Linked DNA regions of Homo sapiens: region 2 is linked to region 1. Evidence: fine-mapped QTL for protein levels in blood plasma. A gene starts in region 1. The other region holds a variant in brackets. All regions are shown on one strand. Distances are from middle to middle.

Evidence for each region. A credible set is the group of variants that fine-mapping cannot tell apart. PIP is the chance, under the fine-mapping model, that this variant and not a neighbour inherited with it causes the effect. Protein levels are from antibody-based Olink assays in UK Biobank. Linkage for the fine-mapping came from a reference panel and not from the study's own genotypes, which makes the PIPs less certain.
Region 2: its variant is the best candidate, but not a certain one, in a credible set for the plasma level of the CSF3 protein (UK Biobank, PIP 0.51).

The regions. Positions count from the first base shown.
Region 1 is chr17:40,014,502-40,023,299 of GRCh38, forward strand. It overlaps CSF3 (colony stimulating factor 3), which reads left to right and starts at 939. Exons shown (of 5, transcript NM_172219.3): 1 at 939-1,013; 2 at 1,190-1,344; 3 at 1,732-1,839; 4 at 1,984-2,130; 5 at 2,294-3,312. The coding sequence starts at 974. The coding sequence ends at 2,458. It overlaps MED24 (mediator complex subunit 24), which reads right to left. Exons shown (of 26, transcript NM_014815.4): 20 at 8,630-8,798; 21 at 8,144-8,325; 22 at 7,893-7,983; 23 at 7,454-7,553; 24 at 5,772-5,852; 25 at 5,284-5,432; 26 at 4,603-5,144. The coding sequence ends at 5,028. It overlaps PSMD3-AS1 (PSMD3 antisense RNA 1), which reads right to left and starts at 140. Exons shown (of 3, transcript NR_198981.1): 1 at 53-140. RefSeq lists an enhancer at 849-1,348.
Region 2 is chr17:39,969,482-39,977,481 of GRCh38, forward strand. It overlaps GSDMA (gasdermin A), which reads left to right. Exons shown (of 12, transcript NM_178171.5): 4 at 1,001-1,166; 5 at 2,043-2,139; 6 at 2,648-2,695; 7 at 3,106-3,132; 8 at 4,329-4,349; 9 at 4,792-4,946; 10 at 5,419-5,533; 11 at 6,443-6,516; 12 at 7,335-8,000. The coding sequence ends at 7,577. Among named protein-coding and RNA genes, the nearest start is that of PSMD3, 7.3 kb to the right of the region's middle. The variant C/CT (reference allele first, on the strand shown) is at 3,791.

The DNA.
Region 1 (8,798 bases):
TAACGCTGCATGGTTCTAAGATGAGAAGATGGGGCAGTTTCCCCTCTCTCACCCCAGCCCGTGTCCACTTCAAGGTGAATGACCAGGGAAGTCACGTGTCCCAATCCCGCAGTTCCAAAGCCCTTGGGGACCCTACTGTCAGGGTCGTGCACGAGGAGGTGAAGGTCAGGTGAGCCAATCGCCTCGAAGGGTCTTGCCTCATTCGGGACAGACATCCGGTTTCCTCTGGCTCTACCGGGATTCTAGGGGCTTTAGCCGAATGAGTCATGGGGGGCGGGGGGGTTTCTGGGGGAGTTCCCAGCTAATCAACTTGGGACAGGACAGCCTGGAACTTTCGATGGTGCCTATCCAAGTGTGGGGTGGGCACAGCAGCCAAGACCCAATGTCCTTATCTCAGGTAGGGGCTCAGGAGGTCTCCCAGACAGGCAGCCTCCGGAGAGTTTGGGGGTAGGAATGGGAGCAACCAGCTTCTTTTTTTCTCTCTTAGAATTTGGGGGCTTGGGGGACAGGCTTGAGAATCCCAAAGGAGAGGGGCAAAGGACACTGCCCCCGCAAGTCTGCCAGAGCAGAGAGGGAGACCCCGACTCAGCTGCCACTTCCCCACAGGCTGCTGCCGCTTCCAGGCGTCTATCAGCGGCTCAGCCTTTGTTCAGCTGTTCTGTTCAAACACTCTGGGGCCATTCAGGCCTGGGTGGGGCAGCGGGAGGAAGGGAGTTTGAGGGGGGCAAGGCGACGTCAAAGGAGGATCAGAGATTCCACAATTTCACAAAACTTTCGCAAACAGCTTTTTGTTCCAACCCCCCTGCATTGTCTTGGACACCAAATTTGCATAAATCCTGGGAAGTTATTACTAAGCCTTAGTCGTGGCCCCAGGTAATTTCCTCCCAGGCCTCCATGGGGTTATGTATAAAGGCCCCCCTAGAGCTGGGCCCCAAAACAGCCCGGAGCCTGCAGCCCAGCCCCACCCAGACCCATGGCTGGACCTGCCACCCAGAGCCCCATGAAGCTGATGGGTGAGTGTCTTGGCCCAGGATGGGAGAGCCGCCTGCCCTGGCATGGGAGGGAGGCTGGTGTGACAGAGGGGCTGGGGATCCCCGTTCTGGGAATGGGGATTAAAGGCACCCAGTGTCCCCGAGAGGGCCTCAGGTGGTAGGGAACAGCATGTCTCCTGAGCCCGCTCTGTCCCCAGCCCTGCAGCTGCTGCTGTGGCACAGTGCACTCTGGACAGTGCAGGAAGCCACCCCCCTGGGCCCTGCCAGCTCCCTGCCCCAGAGCTTCCTGCTCAAGTGCTTAGAGCAAGTGAGGAAGATCCAGGGCGATGGCGCAGCGCTCCAGGAGAAGCTGGTGAGTGAGGTGGGTGAGAGGGCTGTGGAGGGAAGCCCGGTGGGGAGAGCTAAGGGGGATGGAACTGCAGGGCCAACATCCTCTGGAAGGGACGTGGGAGAATATTAGGAGCAGTGGAGCTGGGGAAGGCTGGGAAGGGACTTGGGGAGGAGGACCTTGGTGGGGACAGTGCTCGGGAGGGCTGGCTGGGATGGGAGTGGAGGCATTACATTCAGGAGAAAGGGCAAGGGCCCCTGTGAGATCAGAGAGTGGGGGTGCAGGGCAGAGAGGAACTGAACAGCCTGGCAGGACATGGAGGGAGGGGAAAGACCAGAGAGTCGGGGAGGACCCGGGAAGGAGCGGCGACCCGGCCATGGCGAGTCTCACTCAGCATCCTTCCATCCCCAGTGTGCCACCTACAAGCTGTGCCACCCCGAGGAGCTGGTGCTGCTCGGACACTCTCTGGGCATCCCCTGGGCTCCCCTGAGCAGCTGCCCCAGCCAGGCCCTGCAGCTGGTGAGTGTCAGGAAAGGATAAGGCTAATGAGGAGGGGGAAGGAGAGGAGGAACACCCATGGGCTCCCCCATGTCTCCAGGTTCCAAGCTGGGGGCCTGACGTATCTCAGGCAGCACCCCCTAACTCTTCCGCTCTGTCTCACAGGCAGGCTGCTTGAGCCAACTCCATAGCGGCCTTTTCCTCTACCAGGGGCTCCTGCAGGCCCTGGAAGGGATCTCCCCCGAGTTGGGTCCCACCTTGGACACACTGCAGCTGGACGTCGCCGACTTTGCCACCACCATCTGGCAGCAGGTGAGCCTTGTTGGGCAGGGTGGCCAAGGTCGTGCTGGCATTCTGGGCACCACAGCCAGGCCTGTGTATGGGCCCTGTCCATGCTGTCACCCCCAGCATTTCCTCATTTGTAATAACGCCCACTCAGAAGGGCCCAACCACTGATCACAGCTTTCCCCCACAGATGGAAGAACTGGGAATGGCCCCTGCCCTGCAGCCCACCCAGGGTGCCATGCCGGCCTTCGCCTCTGCTTTCCAGCGCCGGGCAGGAGGGGTCCTGGTTGCCTCCCATCTGCAGAGCTTCCTGGAGGTGTCGTACCGCGTTCTACGCCACCTTGCCCAGCCCTGAGCCAAGCCCTCCCCATCCCATGTATTTATCTCTATTTAATATTTATGTCTATTTAAGCCTCATATTTAAAGACAGGGAAGAGCAGAACGGAGCCCCAGGCCTCTGTGTCCTTCCCTGCATTTCTGAGTTTCATTCTCCTGCCTGTAGCAGTGAGAAAAAGCTCCTGTCCTCCCATCCCCTGGACTGGGAGGTAGATAGGTAAATACCAAGTATTTATTACTATGACTGCTCCCCAGCCCTGGCTCTGCAATGGGCACTGGGATGAGCCGCTGTGAGCCCCTGGTCCTGAGGGTCCCCACCTGGGACCCTTGAGAGTATCAGGTCTCCCACGTGGGAGACAAGAAATCCCTGTTTAATATTTAAACAGCAGTGTTCCCCATCTGGGTCCTTGCACCCCTCACTCTGGCCTCAGCCGACTGCACAGCGGCCCCTGCATCCCCTTGGCTGTGAGGCCCCTGGACAAGCAGAGGTGGCCAGAGCTGGGAGGCATGGCCCTGGGGTCCCACGAATTTGCTGGGGAATCTCGTTTTTCTTCTTAAGACTTTTGGGACATGGTTTGACTCCCGAACATCACCGACGCGTCTCCTGTTTTTCTGGGTGGCCTCGGGACACCTGCCCTGCCCCCACGAGGGTCAGGACTGTGACTCTTTTTAGGGCCAGGCAGGTGCCTGGACATTTGCCTTGCTGGACGGGGACTGGGGATGTGGGAGGGAGCAGACAGGAGGAATCATGTCAGGCCTGTGTGTGAAAGGAAGCTCCACTGTCACCCTCCACCTCTTCACCCCCCACTCACCAGTGTCCCCTCCACTGTCACATTGTAACTGAACTTCAGGATAATAAAGTGTTTGCCTCCAGTCACGTCCTTCCTCCTTCTTGAGTCCAGCTGGTGCCTGGCCAGGGGCTGGGGAGGTGGCTGAAGGGTGGGAGAGGCCAGAGGGAGGTCGGGGAGGAGGTCTGGGGAGGAGGTCCAGGGAGGAGGAGGAAAGTTCTCAAGTTCGTCTGACATTCATTCCGTTAGCACATATTTATCTGAGCACCTACTCTGTGCAGACGCTGGGCTAAGTGCTGGGGACACAGCAGGGAACAAGGCAGACATGGAATCTGCACTCGAGCAGCCAAAGCCTGGCAGGGAAGACAGAGGCACAGGGACCATGGGAACCCGGAAAGGAGAGGGCATGGGGTCTGGGTGGGCTTAACAGGCCAGACACAGCCAGACAAGATGAAGCCAGGGAGTGCTGAGCATCTGCACCAGGCTTGTCATTTACCATCTTCCATAAACTTGAGCCCATCCATCAAGTTGCCCACAAAGTGGAAGCCAAGTTCAAGGTGACCACTGGGGTCAGAGCTTCTCTCCTCAGACTCGGTCTCTGCACTCGCCCCAGCTGGTCACTTCCTGCTTGTGGCAGCCTTGGGCTGAAGAGCGCTAAGCTCACAGCCCAGGAGGGTGGGGAGCTGTGGCAAGCAGGGGGGGCAGCGACCGCACCACAGGTGTGAGGCCTGCCTGCAGCCAAAGACTCCTGTGTGGCTTTGGGGTACCCCCACCAGTCCCCAGTCCACTATCTGCCCAAACCTTCTCCTCCTCAGCTCCTCAGTCCCTCCCACCTCCCCTGCCCGTGGCTCCTCGGAAAGCAGGGTCAGAAGTTCCCACTGCCAGCTCGGAGTCATCCATCTAGGGGCTCAGAGATGTGTGAGGCAGGCAAGGAAGGGTTAAAGAAAGGTCCGGCCCCTCATCCCCCCGCCTCCCATCCCCCAGTCCTTTTTTGGAGGCAACAGATCAAATCCCAGGCTAGTCAGAGTGTGGGTGGTGTTGGACCAGGTTCGGGAGACAGCAGAGCAGGCCACCCTGCCCCAGCACTGTGGGGCCCTGAGCCAAAGCCTCTCCCCTTTCAGGGTACAGCTGGCTTTGGGGGAGGGGGCAGCAGGCCAGCCAACTTGGCTCCAAGGAAGGGAAGCTGCTTTCCCCTGGCCCTTCCCCAGCTGAGCAAGCCCACATAGGACCCTGAGCCCTGCCGCCTCTGCTCCTCTTCCTCCTCCTCCTCACCACAGGAGTGAGCCGTTCCCTGGCCACAGCACAGGAGTCCAGGGAGAGGACACTATGCCCTGCCCCGGGTGGCACCAATACCAACAGCACACACAGTCACAAAGGGAGCCACGAGGAGCTTTATTTATACATGAACGAAGGTAGATTTCCCTCACATATTACAAAATACACACAAACACACACACACACACACACACACACACATACACACTTTGCATCTAGAAAGTTCCTCAGAGGTAAGACTACTCCTGGGCTGGGGCGGGCGCACACAGGGGTGACCACTGGGCTTGTGGTCCAGGCTGCTCACTCTCCTCAGGTGCCAGCAGATGGAGAGGAAATTTTGAAAGAAGAAACCGGGAGACATCCTGGAGGTCAGGAGTCAGGAGCGGGGAACTGGAAGCCGCTAGAGGCTCTTGCACCATGTGGAGCGGATGTGAGGCACGATGCCTCATCTTTCCTCACTGCTTCCCTTGGAGGCGCCTGGGGCTGCGCCAGTCCCCAGCCCCCACTGCGGCCATGCCAAGCCCCTCAGAGTGCAGCAATGGCTTTAGCAGCCACCTGGCGGCCCAGGGGCAGGCTGAGGTCCGTGATGGCCAGAACCACCTTGGGGCTGGACATGGCTGACACCTTCACCAGTTCCGACACCTGCCACGGACAGACAGATGCTGCTTGCGGGACGGCTGGTGGTGGGTGTGCTGTCCCAGGGGGAAGGAGGCCCCTCCCTGCTCTAAGGGCTGCCCCGAGGCCCCAGCACCAGCAGGAGAGCCGGGAAGGTGGTACTCACGGTGGTGAAGGGCATGAACTGCAGGACGCTGCCACGGCCACCCTGCTCCAGGCAGTCCACACACTCCTCCATGAACCACTGCACGAACTGGGTGTGGGGGCCAGCGGTGCGAGACCCCAGGATGGAGGAGATGAGCAGGAACAGGTTGGCTGTAGAGAGTGGGGGGAGAGTGACAGGAGGGAGTTCCATGAGAGTGGGTGAGGTCACACTCTGGGAGAAGGTGGGACTGAAAAGGGAAAAGAAACACATGCTGAGCATGTCCCCAAAATGGGGTGTCAGAGAGAGAAAATATAAAAGGCAATTGGGGAGGGGAGGAGGGGGAACTAGACAGGAGCCTGGGGGCCAGGACAGCCAACAATGAGGGGCATGGAGAGGGAAGGGAGGGGCACCGCAAGGCCCCTTCCAGCTGACAAGGTCTCCCAGCCTCCATGAGAAGAGAGACTCGTCCAGCTTAGCCCCAGGTTCGGCAGCAGGGGTGGGGAACTCACCCAGGACTCGGTTCAGAGGGTCCCGCATGTTGACCGTGTGGAGCTGAGAGGCTGAGAGGGAGCTGCTCATGGATCGGTCTGCTGTGGGACGGAGCAGATGGAGCGCTGGGAAACAGCCTGCCGAGTGCAAAAGTGGTGCTCCCCGGGGATGCCCCAACCCGACCTTCACCCATCGGAGGTAACTGGTACATGGAGAGCCCAGAGAAGACCCTGAGATCAAGAGCACAAAGGGAGGCCAGGTACAGTGGCTCACACCTGTAATCCCAGCATTTTGGGAGGCCGAGGCAGGAGGATCGCTTGAGTCCAGGAGTTTGAGACCAGCCTTGGCAACTAGCGAGACCTCATCTCTACAAAAAATACAAAAATTAGCTGGGTGTGGTGCCAACGCCTGTAGTCCCAGCTCCTCGGGAGGCTGAGGCAGACTGCTTGAGCCTAGGAGAACAAGGCTGCAGTGAGCCGAGATGGTGCCACTGCACTCCAGCCTGAGCAACAGAGCAAAACCGTGTCTCAGAAAAACAGGCTGGGCGTGGTGGCTCACGCCTGTAATCCCAGCACTTTGGGAGGCCAAGGCGGGTGGATCATCTGAGTTCAGGAGTTCGAGACCAGCCTGACCAATATGGTGAAACCCCGTCTCTACTAAAAATACAAAAATTAGCCAGGCGTTGTGGCAGGCGCCTGTAGTCCCAGAGACTCAGGAGGCTGAGACAGGAAAATTGCTTAAACCCAGGAGGCGGAGGTTGCAGTAAGCTGAGATCGTGCGACTGCACTCCAGCCTGGGCAACAGAGGGAGACTCCAACTCAAACAAACAAACAAACAAACAAACAAAAAACAAAACAAAAAAAGGGCACAGAGGGACCTCAGATACAGAGATCCCAATGGAATGAGAGAGAAAAACTAACATGTGGTGAGCACACAGGGCCAGGGGCCGATCTTGGTACTTCCTAAGCTGCTTACTCCTCACAACACCCCATTTACAGATGAGGAGACCCAGACGGGGGCTGGCTCAGTCGCTAGCTAAAGGTCACAGCACTTGTAGCTGGCAAACCTAGCATCTTTCTTCTGATCAAGTGTATAGTTGGTCCCCTAGTTCCTAAAAGGCTTCAGAGAAAAGTTCAGGCTCAGGAGAAATCTCTGGAAACAGGAAAAATGCCACAGAAGGAACCCTTGGCAGTAAGCCTGGCAGGGAGGAGGGGACAGTGAAAAGGATGACCTCCAGGGAAGTGGTTGGTGGGGGGTGTGCTCTTTAGGCAGGAAGGTGGGGAGTAGCCCCATGCCCCAGCCCGGGCCTCTCCGGGCATGTTTTGGGGGAAGGAAGGAAGGAAGGTCAGAGCTGGTGAGTCAATGGCACAGGCTGTGCCTGAGGCAGTGAACTCACTCACTTGGGTAGCTTGTCATCCCCTCAACCCTGGGGTAAGGGAGGGGCAGGAGGGCTGTGGGGGAACAACTGTGGGCTGGGCTGGACCTGGGCAGAGGAGCTTCAACCCTCAGGGAGTGAGAACAGCAACCTCTTCTCCAGGGGCAGGACACAGAGCACCCCCTTGGGGGCTAGAACAGCAGGTCCCTGCCACACCCTCTCTGACCAGCTGCAAAGATGCCTGCAGCTGGGGCAGCGGCAGAGTGGCAGCATCGGGGAGTGAATTCCCAGGAAAAGGAGCGGCGCGCGGCCAGCCCACACACTCACTGGGGCTCGAAAGGATGTTGGCATCGTCCTCATTAGAGCTCAGCAGTCGCATCAACTTCGAAGGCTGCACATCGTCCAGGGGGAAGAGGCTGATATAATCCTAGAGGGAGTGAAAGTCACTGTTATACACCCCTAAACCCCCCAGTTTCCAGCTGTCAGGGAAAAGAGCTTGAGCTCCGATTTGAGCGAGGTCAGCATGGCTAGCAGGGCCTCAGCCCCTCTCTGCTCAACCCCTCCCACAATCTGACAGGCCCCTTGTGCCCATGGGCAAGCTGGGGCCACACAAATCACCCATGCAGATTCCTGACCAATCATGCCCAGGCACAGCTGCCCCAAGGGCAGGGGCCACAACTGCTTCCCTTTGCCTGGGGAATCCTTAGGAAATGCTGTAACAAACCGGTGAACAAGTGAAGCCGGCGAGGGCAGCTGGGGGGCCTACCTCAATGTCTTCGCGGTGTCTCTTCTTCTGGCGGGTGGACGCCTGTCCCTTGTGGGAGGAGTAGGAACTGAGGGCACACCACACGGCCAGCCTGGCAAAGGGTTCCAGAAAAAGGGGGACAGTGAGAGGTGCCCCAGGAGCTTTCTGTGTCTGACTGGGCTCCCCAAAGCCCAGTCTCCCAGGGTGGCACCAGGCGAGGGGTGCTTGACCCTGGGTGGCCGGAGCAGGGCAAGCTCTGAAGAGAATCTTACTTGGCAAGAGCAGTGCCCGGGGGGTCCATGAGGCTGTGCCACTTGGAGGAGTCAGTGAGCAGGCCAGGTAGGATGTGGCCCAGCAGGACCAGGGTCACTTGCTGCATGTCCAGGCAGAAGATGGAGTAGAGCAGCTCCACTGCCCGCAGCGTGTGCTCCTTCCGCGTCTCCTTCAGCAGCTCCTAGTGCGCAGGAAAGGGGGCAGTTCAGGAGCCAGGGGCCCGGGATCTGGGGCTCCTACACCCTGCCACCCCAGCATGGCTGTCCAGTAAGGCCCGCAGAGGGGGCCCCAGATGTTGCTCCGCCCCTCAGGCTGAATCCCAGTCTCTGGCCAGAGCTCCCCAAGGAGGCAACTCTGAGGCGAGGCATTCCGGGGAGGCCACCTGGCTCACGGCAGCCTCTCAGGGAAGCCTGGCAGACCAGGCCAGGTGTGGGGAGCCAGGGGACAGGACCCATGTCGGCCCACAGCCACTCCAGCCCAAGTACCTTAATCAGGTTGTTGCAGAACCAGTAGACGCCGCCCATGTGCAGCAGGGTGTCAAAGATGTGGATGGAGCGGCTGTCCACCCAGCCCTTCTCCAGCACCTTGGCAAAAATGTCCGTCAGCACCTCTTTGATGGGCCGCTTGGGGGGCAGCAGGTTCCAGTAGGGCATT
Region 2 (8,000 bases), 45 kb before region 1:
TGCAGACAGAATGGATAAGATTTAGGAACTAGAAGTACTGGAGTTGAGCCAGGGTGGTACACTGTGACTGGAAGCCAAGAGAAGCCAGCGTTGCACGGAGGGTTTCCACAGCAGGATCGAGTATTGCACAGAGTTAGGCGAGGTCATTGAGACTGACAGGTAAGAGATCATTGTAATTTCAGCTGAGTAGTGGAAATACAAGGCAAATTATAAAGAATTTAGGTGGACCGGGCATGGTGGCTCACATCTGTAATCCCAGCTATTCAGGAGGCTGAGGGAGAAGAATCGCTTGAACCCGGGAGGCAGAGGTTGTAGTGAGCCAAGATCGTGCCACTGCACTCCAGCCTGGGTGACAGAGTGAGTGAGACTCCGTCTCAAAAAAAAAAAGAATTTTTTTGATATATTTGCCAATGAAATGAAGGAAAAAATAGGGTAGTAATTTGAGGGAGTGGCATGATCAAAGCAAACAAATTTGTTAGGATTAGGGAGTTTATATATGGAAGCAGACAGAAGGAGCAAGTGGAGAGGAGGAACTGGTGTTAACAGCAAGAGAGAGCATAAGATGTGGAGAGAAAGGATCCCAGAGAGATGAATGGGGAGGAAAGAGGGGGGGAGCATCTACCCCCGGGATCCCAGAGAGATGAATGGGGAGGAAAGAGGGGGGGAGCATCTACCCCCGAACTGGAGGAAAAGGGGGTAAGAAGCACCCAAGAGGCCCTGTTCCTGGCCAGGTGCTGGCCCAATTACCGAGTTTATCTCTGAGCAACCCAGGAGGTCAGCATCATTATACTCATTTCATAGATGAGGCAATTAAGACTCAGAGAAGCTGCCCTGCCAGTAAGCATGAGATCTGGGTTTCAACCTCAGCCCTAGTCCAGAGTCCTCACTCCTTCCCTGCCACCACAATGTCTAGTTCCTGGGAATGACAGAAGGAAAGAGGAGGGTGTGGTACAGGCAGGAAGGAGCTCTGAACGGTTCCCTTATGTTTCTCCTGCAACAGGAAGCTGGCAGCAGACCACCCATTCCTGAAGGAGATGCAAGATCAAGGGGAGAACCTGTATGTGGTGATGGAGGTGGTGGAGACGGTGCAGGAGGTCACACTGGAGCGAGCCGGCAAGGCAGAGGCCTGCTTCTCCCTCCCCTTCTTCGCCCCATTGGGGCTACAGGTTTGATTCAAACACACACACACACACACACACACACTCTCACACTCACACTCACACATACACATTTACATTCAGCCCCTCCTTGGAGGCTTCATTAGCTTTGCCTGATCAGCGCCCACCGAGGATGCTGAAAAGGGCCACTCCTTCCCCCGGCTCTTAAAGATCCAAACCCCAGACATATGCCCCCTCCCTGGTCAGTGGCACCCAGTGAGGGCAGATCCCTGCGCCAGATGCCACAGGGAACTACTGGGGAAGGGGAAAGTCACATTCCTGGGTTTTCCCTCGTGGTGCTCCCATTCCAAAGAGGAGACATCTTTACTCTCGGAAAGTCATCAGGTTCATAGAGGAGACACAGAGGCTAAAGCCCAGAGAACACAGGCTTGGAAAAGCCAATGGAAATAAGGAATGGTCTCCATACCTCTATCTATTGCATCTAAATATTCAAGGGATGATTTGGGATTTGGAGCCAGGAGTAGGGGTTAGTCATGGAAGGCGTCCTGAAAGAGGTAAGCATGGGACAGATGGTGAAGAGGAAGAAGGAGCCAGGGCTTGGATGGAAGCTCTAGGGTGATGTACAGGCAGGAGATGGAGCAGGTCTGCCCAGTTCCCTTCATGCATCTGAACCAGGAACTAGAACTGACCTGACTAGACTCTACTGACCTGAACCAGGTCACTAGAGGGAAAATCAGCAGAAATGAGCACAAGGACTTTGAAGTCCTTCCTCAGAGTCCAGACCAGGGACACCACTGAAGGCTTCCAGCTTCTTATCTCCCTGAAGGCTCTCAGCCCTGACCCTGCACCTCCCCCAACTCACGCTCCCAATATCTCATACTTAAGATGTCCAGAGATTCACAAATTCTCATTGTCTAATTCTAGGGATCCATAAATCACAAGGAGGCTGTAACCATCCCCAAGGGCTGCGTCCTGGCCTTTCGAGTGAGACAGCTGATGGTCAAAGGCAAAGATGAGTGGGGTGAGCAGAGACCCGCATGTTCTCCCCACAAGATGAGAATTACCTGCACCAGTACTGAGGCACCCTGGTCCCCTCTTGCGGAAATGTCAGAGAATGAGTAGGGGGGTGTATTGTACTGTGATCCGACTGCAGCCATGGAGCCTGCTCTGGAGAGAAGGGTGAAGAGGCTCCTGGATTCTGAGCATCTTCTGGGTGCTGGGCACTGTGGTTATTGGGGGAGGGGGTACAAATATGAACATGCACTGCCTCTGCTCTCAAGAAGTCTGTGGCCAAAGGAGGAAACAGACAGAGACTGGAATGGATGATAGAAAGTAGTGTTCTCATAGTAGAGAATTTATCAAGGAAGAAAAGATTGCTTCCAGCAATGGAGGTTGAAGCTGGGAATTAAATGAAGCATTTGGGGTGCAAGGTCCTAGCCCTTAGCAGAGCCCTTTGGCTTGAGACTGAAGAAGGGAATGTGGGGCAGCTGCTAAGTGTCCTCCCACCCTCCCTCCCTTGCCCTTCACAGATATTCCACATATCTGCAATGATAACATGCAAACCTTCCCTCCTGGAGGTAAGTGAAATTGCTTACGGGCTTCCCACATCTTCCGCCCTACCCCTGACATTATCTGCCAAAATCCTCCACCCTCTCCTAGCTTATACTATAATCCCCCAAGGAGCCTCTGCTTTTGTTTCCCAAGTCCCTAAGAATACCTAGCCTCAACTTTAGAAAGACAGATAGAGGCATATAAATACTGTCCCAGAGAGATATAGAAACTGACAGACAGAGACCGGAAGGCACAGTCAGAAGCAGAAGTAAGACTTGGAGACTGAGTGTGTTCCCGAATCATGGGGGTGGATGAGCTAGCATAATCTCCCTGTGTTTTTATAATGATCACTGATGAAACTGCCTTGAAGACTGTTTTAGATGAAAAGGCAAAAATGGGTTTTGTGCTGACAGATGTGCATTTTTTCTGTCTTCAGAAAAGTCAGGAGAGGAGAAGGTCATCCGTAAGTGTTTCCTTTCATTCCACTGAAACTTTCTTGACTCCAAATTTTAAAACTCCAGTCTTTTTCTTTCCTTCTGACAGGACTGACAGGGAAATAGCAGAGCGAATCTCAGCAAATAATTGTCCCCGAAACATGGCAGAAATTCCAATAGCTTGGGAAAAAGCAGTGGAAAGGGGGGAGTCTTTGCCCAGGTGGTCTGACGCCTGAGACCTTTGTCCTCAACAGCCTTACTAGCAGCCAGGCACAGTGATTCACACCTATAATCCCAGCACTTTGGGAGGCTGAGGCAGGAGGATCCCTTGAGCTCAGGAGTTCAAGACCAGCCTGGGCAACATAGTGAGACAATGTCTCTATTTAAAAAAAAAAATTTTTTTTTGGATGGAGTTTCACTCTTGTTGCCCAGGCTGGAGTGTAGTGGCGCAATCTCAGTCCACTGCAACCTCCACCTCCCCGGTTCAAGTGATTCTCCTGCCTCAGCCTCCGGAGTAGCTGGGATTACAGGCACCCGCCACCATGCCCTGCTAATTTTTTGTATTTTTAGTAGAGATGGGGTTTCACCATGTTGGTCAGGCAGGTCTTGAACTCCTGACCTCAGGTGATCCACCCACCTCAGCCTCCCAAAGTATTGGGATTACAGGCGTGAGCCACGGCGCCTGGC[C/CT]TTTTTTTTTTTTCTTGAGACAGAGTCTCATTCTGTTGCCCAGACTGGAGTGCAAAGGTGAGATCTCCACTCACTGCAAACTCTGCCTCCCAGGTTCAAGCAATTCTTGTGCCTCAGCCTCCTGAGTAGCTAGGATAACAGGCGCGGGCCACCACACTCGGCGAATTTTTAGTATAGATGGGGTTTCACCATGTTGGCCAGGCTGGTCTCAAACTCCTGACCTCAGGTGATCCTCCCACCTTGGCCTCCCAAAGTGCTGGGATCACAGGTGTGAGCCACTGAGCCTGGCCTAGAAAAAAAAAAAAAAAATTAAGAGTCTTAGTAGCTATAACCTGCTACACACACATCTGCAACTCGGCCGCCCAGCAACTGGGGCCAGAGCCACTGAGTCACAGTAATGCCAGGAACAAGGTAGCTGGGCTCTCCCAGGAGACAGGCAGGATGTATTTCCTCATCTTCCTTAGTGTCTCAACCCCTGGGTATGGCTGCCATTCTGAAGGATTGCATTCTTATCTTTTTTTTTTCCTTTTTTTCTCAGTTATCCAGGCATCTGATGTTGGTAAGGAACTTTGTGAGTTTCTCCCAAGACTTTGGCATGGAGGTAGCATTAGGGGCAGAGAGAGGAGAAGGCGAAGTCATTCTTTGTCAGCTAACTCATGGGAAGGGAAAACAGACTTTCTTTCTCCACTTTTTGCTGGAGTCTCAAAGAAAAGTCAAGTGTGTACTGATATGGGATAAGGCCTGGGATCTCAGGAAGATTAACTGTTGGGTTAGATGATACATGCATCCTGGCCCACCTTCTCGCCCCAACCCTCAGGTTAGGGTTGGTGGATAGTTCTGTCACCGCATTCCTTGGTAAAGAAAAATGGGGCCAGGCTCAAACTGGGGGGTAGAGCATGGGTACCTAAAGGGGGCTGAGTGTAGGAGCCCTGCAGGGGGAATGCTGACTGGAGAGGAAGGTGCCCGATGGAGGGCTGTGTGTCCCATTATTGTCCCCATAGGGGACGTACACGAAGGCTTCAGGACACTAAAAGAAGAAGTTCAGAGAGAGACCCAACAAGTGGAGAAGCTGAGCCGAGTAGGGCAAAGCTCCCTGCTCAGCTCCCTCAGCAAACTTCTAGGGAAGAAAAAGGAGCTACAAGACCTTGAGCTCGCAGTGAGGACCTAGTGGAAGTGGGGAAGGGTGGGAGAAGGCATGTTTTGGTGAAGATTTGGTGGGGGCGGGTATTGCAGCAGGTAGGGAGATCTGACGGGGGCAGGAGGTGGGTGGCCAGGGGAGTCCACCTTAGATACCTTCCCCAAGGCTGGCCACGTGCCCCAAGGCTGCCAGGCCACTGCTCCTCCCTTTGTCCCCTGGAAAAGGGCAAACAGTGGGTTCCCCCAAGGCACATGCTCCCTCTGATGGCCAGAAGGGACTTCTGCTGGAGGGGCTGGAACCTTCTCTTTCCAGAGTCCAAAACTCAGGAAACAAGGAACCCAGGAGTCCAGTACTCTTCAGGACATGAGGCCTCGAAAAAGAAATCAGGAAATGGAGAGAGTTTCCGCATGTCAAGGGGTTATTATGTGCTGGGCCCTGGGTTGGGCCCTTTCCTATGTTATCTTCAATAGTCGCCCACCTTCCCCCACAGCTTGAAGGGGCTCTAGACAAGGGACATGAAGTGACCCTGGAGGCACTCCCAAAAGATGTCCTGCTATCAAAGGAGGCCGTGGGCGCCATCCTCTATTTCGTTGGAGCCCTAACAGGTAAGTGGGGAATAAGGTCTTCATTTATAGACCTTTTCAGTAATAGGAATGAATCACTTGAATCAATTCCCAAATGGATGAATAAATGAATGAATGACAAATTATACCACAGTTAAGTAGTTTATATCTACATTTTTATAAATTGGTTTCATGGCTGGCTGCAGTGGCTCATGCCTGTAATCCCAGCACTTTGGGAGGCCAAGGTGGATGGATCACCCGTGATCAAGAGTTCGAGATCAGCCTGGCCAACATGGTGAAACCCCGCCTCTTCCAAAAATAGAAAAATTAGCCGGGCGTGGTGGCAGGTGCCTGTAATCCCAGCTACTCTGAAGGCTAAGGCAGGAGAATCGCTTGAACCCAGGAGGGGGAGGGTGCAGTGAGCCGAGATCACTCCATTGCACTCCAGCCTGGGCAACAGAGCGAGACTCCATCAAAAAAAAAAAAAATTGGTTTCATTCCTAAGGATTTGCTTGGTCACATTGGGTAGTCTGAGAAGACAGCCTAGTCTTGCTAATAGAGGTTGAATAACCCTAGTTTTATCAGCAACATATTTAAAATTTCTGCATATAGCTAAGCTCATCACTTCTATCCTGATACCTGTTAGCTTTAACTTCAGGGAGTAACATTTTCTTATCTTGCCCCTAAGAGCTCTTCTTCCCTCCACATTTTCTAGTTTTCCACTTAGAAAAACTCTGTGGTCCTTCAGGTGTAAGCCAAAACGTTTGTTCCCTTAGGAAGCCTGCCCTCCGACTCCAAGACCAAAGTGGACCCCTCAGCTATGGCTCCCTTAACACCTGCGTTGTAATTACATCCAATGAATGAAGGCTGAAATTCTGGAAGTGCGCTATTTGGAGGCTGTAGTCCCCTCTGCACCAGCAACACACATCTTTCTCTGCTTTTTTTCTCCAGAGCTAAGTGAAGCCCAACAGAAGCTGCTGGTGAAATCCATGGAGAAAAAGATCCTACCCGTGCAGCTAAAGCTGGTGAGGGAAAAACAGCAGATGCTGGGGAGAGTCTGGGAGTAGCTGCAGCCAGTGGAGATGCAGATTTCGCCTAAGGATGGAGCCATTCTGGAGGATCCCTGTCTTATCCCAGGGGCTTATGCCCACTCCTCCTTTCTCTCTCTATTTCTCATTTTTTGTTATTTCACAAGAGGTAGAAGACTGAATTTCTGGGCAATAATCTGGGTTTATTAGCCTGATCTTGGGAGAAGAGACAGAAACTGTGGCTTTGCTTATTCCTAGCCAAATATTGTAAGCAAATTTTTTTTTTTTTTTTTTTGAGATAGAGTTTCACTCTTTTTGCCCAGGCTGGAGTGCAATGGTGCGATCTTGGCTCACCACAACCTCCGCCTCCCGGGTTCAAGCGATTCTCCTGCCTCAGCCTCCCGAGTAGCTGGGATTACAGGCGCCCACCACCACACCCTGCTAATTTTGTATTTTTAGTAGAGACAGGGTTTCACCATGTTGGCCAGGCTGGTCTCAAACTCCTGACCTCAGGTGATCTGCCCACCTCAGCCTCCCAAAGTGCTGGGATTACAGGTGTGAGCCACCTCGCCTGGCCTGTGAGCAAATTTTTTACTGTGTCTGAGTCTGTCTCAATTTATTCCTCTGTAAAATGGGGCTAAAAATCAATGTGCTGCCCACTGTATAGGGCTGTTCAAAGACCCAGATGGGGTTGTAATGTAAGGTAAAGTAAGGAATTCTAATAAGGGGAATGTAACCTTCTTGTGATTTTTGTGAGTTAGGAGAGGAGAGAGGTTTCCAGTTCTTTCTTTTCATGCTGTTTTGATTCCCTCCAGGTGGAGAGCACGATGGAACAGAACTTCCTGCTGGATAAAGAGGGTGTTTTCCCCCTGCAACCTGAGCTGCTCTCCTCCCTTGGGGACGAGGAGCTGACCCTCACGGAGGCTCTAGTCGGGCTGAGTGGCCTGGAAGTGCAGAGATCGGGCCCCCAATATATGTGGGACCCAGACACCCTCCCTCGCCTCTGTGCTCTTTATGCAGGCCTCTCTCTCCTTCAGCAGCTTACCAAGGCCTCCTAATTTGCCTTTTACGTCTGCTTCATGACTCCCTAATGCCTTCCCAACCTCGTGGTGCTGTGTCCTTACCACCTAAGGGCATTTCAGAGCCATCAGCTGAAGACATCTGAAATCTCAGCTGGTCACCCATGATAACCAACTTCCACCTGCCCAACCATATATCACCCCCTACCCCTCCAGCTCCGCAACCCACTAAGCCCATCTGCTGATGCTTAAATTTTCTTTACTTTTCTTTTCTTTTTTTTTTTTTTTTTGAGATGGAGGCTCACTCTGTCACCCAGGCTGGAGTGCAGTGGCTTGATCTTGGCTCACTGCAACCTCCGCCTCCCAGGTTCAAGCAATTCTCCTGCCTCAGCCTCTCGAGCAGCTGGAATTACAGGCACGTGCCACGACACCCAGCTAATTTTTGTATTTTTAGTAGAGACG